Linked DNA regions of Homo sapiens: regions 1 and 3 are each linked to region 2. The links come from fine-mapping of genetic effects on gene expression. A gene starts in region 2. Each other region holds a variant in brackets. All regions are shown on one strand. Distances are from middle to middle.

Region 1 (2,758 bases), 73 kb before region 2:
GTCTCAAACTCCTGGACTCAAGCAATTCATTGGCCTCAGCCTCCCAAAGTGCTAGGATTATAGGTAAGCACCCAGCCAATTATTTTTATTTAGAGACAGGATCTTGCTCTGTCTCCAGGGCTGGAGTGCAGTGGCATGATTATGGCTCACTGGAGCCTAGGCTCAAGGGACCCTTCTGCCTCAGCCTCCAGAGTATCTGGGAATACAGGCATGTACCACGATGCCCGGCTAATTAAAAAAACTGGTTTTTTTTTTTGAGATAGAGGCTCGCTCTGTTGCCCAGGCTGGAGGGCAATGGCGTGATCTCGGCTCACTGCAACCTGTGCCTCCCACGTACAAGCAATTCTGCTGCCTCAGCCTCCCGAGTAGCTGGGGTTACAGGCACCTGCCATCATGCCCAGCTAATTTTTGTATTTTTGTAGAGACAGAGTTTCACCATGTTGGCCAGGCTGGTCTTGAACTCTTAAACTCTTAACCTCAGGTGATCCGTCCGCCTTGACATCCCAAAGTGCTAGGATTACAGGCATGAGCCACTGCATCTGGCCAAAAAAATGAAAAAAAATTTTTTTTTTTAAGAGACGGGGTCTTGCTATGTTGCCCAGGCTGGTCTTGAACTCCTGGTCTCAAACTCCTGGTCTCAATAGATCTTCAGGCCTTCGCCTCTCAAAGTGCTGGGATTACAGACATGGGTGCGTATTTCGTATCTCCTTGCCACTAGAATATAAATTGCTTGAGAATAGATACTCTGGCCTCTGTTATCACTGGCACCTACAACAGCCTCAGGCTCAAAGAAGCTAAGATTTACTGTCTGCCTAGTGTTGTGTACCAGCTCGCCCAGAACAACTTCCCACTCATGAGCTCACCTAGTCAAACAACCGTTTGACGCAAGCTTTGCTATTCCCTTCTTACACATCTGAAAACCTGTTTCAAGATCACACATCTAATGGGTGGTAGAGCCAAGAATTTGATTCCCAGCTCACTGCCTGTCCCTCAGAATTCTAGCTGTTGCTATTAGAATCCAGATCCAGGCCGGGCACGGTGGCTCACACTTGTAATCCCAGCACTTTAGGAGGCCGAGGCGGGCGGATCACTTGATGCCAGGAGTTCGAGACCAGCCTGGCCAACATGGTGAAACCCCGTCTCTACTAAAAATACAAAAATTTATCCGGGTGTGGTGGTGGGCGCCTGTAATCCCAGCTACTCGGGAGGCTGAGGCAGGAGAATCGTTTGAACCCGGGAGGTGGAGGTTGCAGTGAGTGCAGTGAGCTGAGATTGCGCCACTGCACTCCAGCCTGGGCGACAGAGCGAGCCTCCGTCTAAAAAAAAAAAAGAGAATCTGGATCCAAAGCGGACATGCATGTGTGTCTCCCC[C/G]ATCCCCACACACTTGTTTGTGTCTGGCCTTTCTCCTACTCCAAGACTGGCTCCACTTCGGGGCTCGCTGCCATGGAGACGACTCCAGATTTAGGAATACATTTCCTAGGCTTCCGGCAACTAACGTGAGGACTTGCTGGGATGAGGGACGGGGAGGTCTGCAGAAGGAGGCGGGGCATGCGGGGGTTGCGGGGCTTAGAGGGTTGGCGGAGCCCCTCCTCGCGTAGGTCCTTCCTTCTTTCCCTCCCTCCCTTTCTCTTTTCTTTTTCTTTCTCTTTCTCTTTCTTCTTTCTTTCTCTTTCCTTTCTCTCTTTCCTTCCTTCCTTCCTCTTTTTCTTCATTCCTTCCTCTTCCTCTTTCTCTTCCTTTTTCTTTCTCTCTCTTCTTTCTTCTTTCTCTCTGTTGAAAATTGTTTTTGACCACACCCAGATCATACTGATATTTACAGTATAGTCCTGGCTACAAGGGAGCCCAGCTGTAACTTGTGAAGTGGGCCTGGTTTAGAAAGTAACAATGAGGTGGTAACTAATGACAGTACTAGTTGTTATCAAAAATTAACACCTTTAGGTATTTTTGTTTTGGGTTTTTGTGGTTTTGGTGCATCCACAATGTCTTCATAGTCTGCACTTATTCCCTTTGCCCACAGACCAACTGTGGCCATTCGATCTGAATTCTCACTTTCAGGGCAATCTTTCTTTAAATGTTCCACAGAGCCATGAAGTTGGCAACCACTACCATCAGCATAGAGTCCTTTGGGATTATCAGGACAAGATCTAGACAGGTGCCCCATTTCTCCACAGACAAAACATTCTGCAAAAGGACATTCGCCAAGAGGCGGGTCTACTTTAGCCTTACACTTGGTTATTTCGTGATCTGTGGACCCACACTTGTAACATCTTCTAGTGCCCATATCTTGATTTTCAAGGGCGGCAGGGCAATCCGCAATTCCACGACCAGGTTTTCTACAATGGAAACACACCATTGCATTTTTCTTTGCCCCTTGTCTTTTAAATCTTCTTACTTCCCATTGACTGTCCTCTTGGAGGAAGGGTTGTGTGGAGAGTGGAGGTCTGCATGTGGTAAAGGAGATGGGTGGGTGGGGCGTGAAGGACCCGAAAGACAAGGCCAGTCTCATGGGTGTGTGACCTGTGCGGTCACACAGAGCCCTGAGCTCAGCAGGGCCTGGCGCTTGATTTCATGTTCTGTTGTCACCGTCTTGACATTCTTATCATTTTTGAACGAGGGGCCCTGTGTTTCCATTTTGCACTGGGTCCCACAACTGCTGGAGCTGGTCCTACAGGAGGGTGAAAATTAGCATATAATGAGCAGTGAGGACAACCAGGAGTCCCTTTCATTGCCATCTTGGCTTTGGTGGGCTTTGGCCAGC
Region 2 (2,758 bases):
CACCCCGCCGGCAATTCATGGATCCAGGGCATTAGCACTGCGGTGGAGGTGGGTTGGCTGGGAGACCCCAGGTGGGGTTCACTTGGGCTGTAGGGGAATGAGGGAGAGTGGCCTACAGGAAAGAGACAAAGAGGTTGGAGACACATCAGAGGGGCAGGGGCAAGGTGCCAGGGAACTGAGCTGGTCTCCTCTCTCAACCAAGAGAGGTCAGGATACACCAGTGAACCCGCTGCAGCCCTCTACAACTTCCTCTAGAGGCTTGTCTGAAGAATGATGTTCTTATAGATACTGCTAGGCAAAAAATCCTCATCTAGGATCAGGAAATTTGCATATCTGTCTTGGTCCTGACTATCTCCCTGTGTAAATCACTACTCCTACTGAGCCTCAGCTGTGCTTTATTGGGCCAACGGCATCTGCAACCCAGGGTGGCTAATAGTAATAATAACAGCAGCAGCAGCAGCAGCAACAACAGCAATGGGAGATCTTATTTATTGAGCACTTACTGTATATCAGACTCTGTGCTAAATGTTTAACCTGGATGATCTCTTTTAACCCTCACACAGCCCAGGGAGGCGGGCTCTCACTCTCCCATTTTGCAGACAGAGAAATAGGCAGAGAGCAGTGAAGTGATTGGCCCAGGGTGATAGTGCCAGGACTGGTGATAGTGCCTGACTCCCAAGTCCGTGCTCATAACTACAATGCCAGGCGAGTACCGGGAATGCACTTGAATAGAAGAGGGTGTGGGGCTCTGAGGTGCAGCAAGGGCCCCCCCAGCAAGCCTCCTGGCTCCAGCATAGTCTGGGGCCTGGATCCCCCTTTGAGAGGGCAGTTCCATGTCACTGCTCAGAGGAAGGCCTGGCAGGGAGGGCTCAGTGGTGGGGTCCCAAGAGGGCAGGGCAGGCATGAGGGCCAGGGGATGTCCCGCGGGCAGTGGGGTCCTCTGTCCACTCACCTGCCCCTTCCTGGGCTTGGGCGCACAGTGACCTCAGCCCCATCTGCTCCCAGGTATGGAGGGCTAGGTCCCAGGCCCGCTGCTCCCCATACTGAGCCACCAGGTACGAGGCCACCTCCATGCCACTCGTCTTCTCTGGCTGAGCGGGTGTCTCACCCGAAGAGCTCCTGGAGTGCGCTTTATTGGCGAGCAGAAGCTGGAACTCCTTCAGCTCCTCCTTCTTCAGGAACTCCAAGTAACAGGCCAGGCGGCCCCAGGCTCCGCCAGCCATCTCTGTCCCGGAGTTAAGAGGGTGTCTGGGGGATGTTCCCAGGTGGTGAGGGTATCAGGCAGGCAGAGAACAGTGCTGTCCTTTGCCTTGGCTCTTACCGTCTCTTATTCAGCATTCGGAACCCAGTTTTATAAATCCCAGGGCACCTACAGATAGACGCCGATAGAGGGGGAGTGGTAGGAAAAGCCAGGGGAGGGAGGAGCCCAGAGGGGCCTGCAAGACACTGGAAGAAGTCAGCTGATAGGGAGGTCCTGGGATGGGGTCCAGGGCCAGGCAGGGAGGGTGAGGGTGAGGGGAGATGTGGTGACGGGAGATGGGGTGTGGGCAACGCTCACTGTTCTGTGTTCCTCAGATTCTTCCCTCTCCTGGGTCCTGGACTCCTGAGATCAACCCTTGAGCTGCAAGGCTGAGAAGAGGTGGGGTGGGAGGAGCCGCAGAGCAGGGAATGGGCTTTCAGAACCCAGAGTGGAGCCCCGGGCTGCTGGCTCCCAGGTTTCTTCAGACCTCTCCAGGCCCTGGGGCACCAGCCAGCAAGAACAGCGCCTAGTCAACAAGAGCAGGAAGGAAACGTCACCCAGAGGAAACCCACAAGGGGCGTGGCCAGGGGGTAGGATCAAACCAGGCCTGGGTAGGCCAGACTCAGAGTCACAGATTCAGATGGGCCACATGGCATCTATAGGCGGACCAGGAGCACAGGCCCAGACCAGCTGACGCTGCAGCAGGTACAGGCCCATACTAAACACGGTGTGTGCACCTCCACATGGGCACTCCGCCAGCCCATCATCTAGAGCCTGTCTGCAGAGCCAGGATGCAGACTCTCCGAGCAGTTGTGTCTGCAGCCCAGGCCCAGCCTCTCAGGATGGGTGGGGCCCCCTGTGTCTGCCCGGGCAGCTCCTTATTGGGAAACATTAGAACTGGGCCAGGGAGCATTTTTCCCAGCCTCTCATGGTTTTGGGAGCTTCTTGAGTTGCACTGCATGTCCTGCCATGCTACCAGGGGCACTAAAGCATGTGTCCCAGGCCCAGGGGGCTGTTTGCCTTCTGGGCAGCCCAGCACTTAGCTGGTGAACATTTCCACCTGAAAGCAGAACAGCCCCTTCCTCATTCCTGCAAGCAGGCCTCGGGGAGCCAGGGGCAGACTTCCTCTTTCGTGGAATCTGCAAGATGCCAATGACTTCAGGTTGAGGAATGACATTGCCTACTCATTTGCTGATGTAACACACCACCAGGAATTTCTGGAGATGCTTTGGTTTCACTTGGACTGGCAGAGCCCAGGCTTCAACCCACGGCTTGCTTGGACAAGGACTCCTTATGTGCCTGATTTATTTCTTTGAGCCTCAGTTTGCCCATCTATTAAATGGGACATCATAGGTTTACCAAGAGGCTTCAATTCAGCAAAAGGTCTTAGAGTCTCTCTCTCTTTCCCAGGCTGGAGTGCAGTGGCAAGATCTCGGCTCACTGCAAGCTCCCTCCACCTCCTGGGTTCCAGCGATTCTCCTGCATCAGCCCAGCTTCCTGGGCAGTTGGGATTACAGT
Region 3 (2,758 bases), 52 kb before region 2:
ATTTAGCAATAATTAATAACAATATATGTGCTAAGATTATCTGTCTTGTCTTGTCTGTCTATCTATCTATCTATCTAATCTATCTAATCTATCTATCTATCTATCTATCTATCTATCTATCTATCTATCTATCTATCTAATCTATGGAAATATGGTCTCACTCTGTTGCCCAGGCTGGAGCGCAGTGGCCCGATCTTGGTTCACTGCAGCCTCGAAATCCCTGGCTTAGGCAATTCTTCCACCTCAGCTCCCTGAGTAGCTAGGACTACAGGTACATGTCACCACGTCCAGCTAATTTTTTTGGTAATTTTTGTAGACACAAGGTTTTGCCATGTTGTCCAGGCTGGCCTTGAACTCCTGGACTCAAGTGATCCTCCTGCCTCGGTCTCTTAAAGTGCTGGGATTATAGGCATGAGCCACTATGCCTGGCCGTATGTGCTAATATTAATGCTAAACCCTTAGAATTGGAAACAACACTTTTATAGAGATCAGAAGTGATTTTCCCAAGGCTCCTCAGGTGGGTTAATAGTGGGTCCCGGGATGCCCCAGCTTCTGTAGGTGTGAGCTGGGAGTGACGCTGTCTCCTGGTTGAGATGATGTCTGTGGCAGTGTTTGGTGAGTGGTAACATGTTATATAAGAGATCATGAGTATGACTATAGAGAATTACTACTAGTGCGACTGTAAGCCCTGGGAGGGCAGGGCTGCCATATTCATCTTAGGGTCCCCAGCTACTAGTACAGTCCTTAGCTCATTAGTGGCTGTTAATAAAACAGGAGCATACAGATTAAGAGAGTTAAGTGAGATTTAAGAAATATAACAAAGAAAATAAAATGAGTGGACCTTGTTTGGATCCTGATAAGAACACACCAACTGGCCAGGCGCGGTGGCTCACGCCTGTAATCCCAGCACTTTGGGAGGCTGAGGAAGGTGGATCGTCTGAGGTCAGGAGTTCGAGACCAGCCTGTCCAATATGGTGAAACCCCCATCTCTACTAAAAATACAATTTTCATTTTTCACACGTGGTGGCATGTGACTGTAGTCCCAGCTACTAGAGAGGCTGAGGCTGGAGAATC[G/T]CTTGAACCTGGGAGGTGGAGGTTGAGGTAAGCCAAGATTGTGCCATTGCACTCCAGCCTGAGTGACAGAGCAAGACTCTGTCTCAAAACCAAATCAAACCAAACCCAACCAAACCACAACACCAACTATAAGAACATGTTTTAGACAATTGAGCAATTTGAATATGGATTGGGGAGTAGATGAAATGAAAGACTTACTGCCAGCTTTGTCAGATGTGATATTGGCATTGTAGTTATGTTATGGAAGAAAAGGTTTTTATTTTTGTTTTTTGAGATGCGTAATGAAATATTTAAGGGTAAAATCACCCGATGTCTTGGATTTAAAATACTGTAACAATAACAAAGAGGGGGAAAGTGAACAGCTGAAACGAATTTGGCAAAACAGTGGCTGAAGCTGGGTGATGGGTACATGGAAGCTCCTTGTACTATTTTTGTATATGTTTGAAAATTTTAAGTTTCATAAGAAAACATCTTTTTCCATATGAAAAGCAGACACCCAGTGTCTCAGCCCTGTCTCTGCCTGTTGTCTTGGCAAGAGGAGGGGACCCAGTGGTGAGTGTGAGTTGGGGGTAGGGGGTGGCGCTGACTGTCTGTGGGGACCCAGGATGGGCAGTGGGGTGCGGGAGGCCAGCCTGGGACCAGCAGAGCCCCCTCACTCACCGGTACAAGTTCTTTTCTTTGTCAACTACCTCAGTAGCCACAGGCCCCGTGGGGCCCCAGAAGTCATCGTCAGTCCCCAAAGGCTTCGTATGCAGGTCCCCTTGAGAGGCAGGAGAAGGCACGCACAAGAGTTCCACCGGTACTACCTCTGGGGAGCTTTCCTCTGAAACAGCAAGGCAGCGGTCAGCTCCAGATTCTCCCGCCTGGCCTCCCCTAGCCCCTATGGCTGCACTGTAAGGGGCCCTTCCCAAGGCTGGCCTGCCTGGACCATGGCAGGGAGTGTGTCTGCAGCTTCTGCTCCTGCTCCATGGCTGCCTGCCTGCTGTCTGGGGAGCCCCACTCCAGTGCCTCCAGCCCAGCCTCCGCCCATCTCCCCTTCCCCACTGGAATAGAAGTGCCACTCTCCCCAGCATGCCCAGGTGGGCAGGTTGAGAGAGAACATGGTTCAAAAGATGAAAGGGGCCAGGCACCGTGGCTCTTGCCTGCAATCTCAGCAATTGGGAAGATCTTGCTCACGTCCAGGAGTTTGAGATTAGCCTGAGCAACATGGGAAGCCGCCCTCTCTACAGAAAAAAGAAAAATATCAGCCAGGCATGGTGGTGAGCATCTGCAGTCCCAGTTCTACTCAGGAGGCGGAGGTGGGAGGATTGTTTGAGCTCAGAAGGTTTAGGCTGCAGTGAGCCATGAACATGCCACTGCACTCCAGCCTGAACACTAGAGTGAGACTCTGTTTTTTTTTTTTTTTTTTTTTTTTTAGATGGCAGGGCAAAGATGGAGATGTGATTCCCAGGCCTTAGCAGCCAAGAATGGAAGAGGCCGGACCCCGGTTCAGGGTTTGATACATGCCATAGACGTTCTGGAGAGGGGAAGCACCAGCCGGTGGGTCTCGGAGAGAGGGTAACGGAAATCCAGCCAGTTCCTAGGAGTGGGAGCTCTCTCGTGGGGGTAGCACCCTCTTGGGTAGGAAACCTGCCCCGTCCCACATCAGGGGCAGAGGGATGGAGGGAATGACCTCCCACAGCTG

Evidence for each region. PIP is the estimated chance that this variant, and not a neighbour inherited with it, causes the effect.
Region 1: its variant is fine-mapped to the expression of NLRP1 in sigmoid colon (GTEx, PIP 0.96).
Region 3: its variant is fine-mapped to the expression of NLRP1 in whole blood (TOPMed, PIP 0.99).

Annotation. Positions count from the first base shown.
Region 1 is chr17:5,510,122-5,512,879 of GRCh38, forward strand. It overlaps LOC101928044 (zinc finger CCHC domain-containing protein 9-like), which reads right to left and starts at 2,605. Exons shown (of 1, transcript XM_047437231.1): 1 at 1,831-2,605. The coding sequence starts at 2,506. The coding sequence ends at 1,919. It also overlaps a transcript of NLRP1 not described here. The variant C/G (reference allele first, on the strand shown) is at 1,372.
Region 2 is chr17:5,582,735-5,585,492 of GRCh38, forward strand. NLRP1 (NLR family pyrin domain containing 1) reads right to left here and starts at 1,775. Exons shown (of 17, transcript NM_033004.4): 1 at 953-1,775; 2 at 1-112. The coding sequence starts at 1,223. RefSeq lists enhancers at 1,113-2,312, 1,584-1,843, 1,864-2,163.
Region 3 is chr17:5,531,088-5,533,845 of GRCh38, forward strand. NLRP1 (NLR family pyrin domain containing 1) reads right to left here. Exons shown (of 17, transcript NM_033004.4): 10 at 2,217-2,297; 11 at 1,735-1,897. It overlaps LOC124903902 (a long non-coding RNA gene), which reads left to right. Exons shown (of 4, transcript XR_007065590.1): 2 at 2,492-2,613. Among named protein-coding and RNA genes, the nearest start is that of MIS12, 46 kb to the left of the region's middle. The variant G/T (reference allele first, on the strand shown) is at 1,075.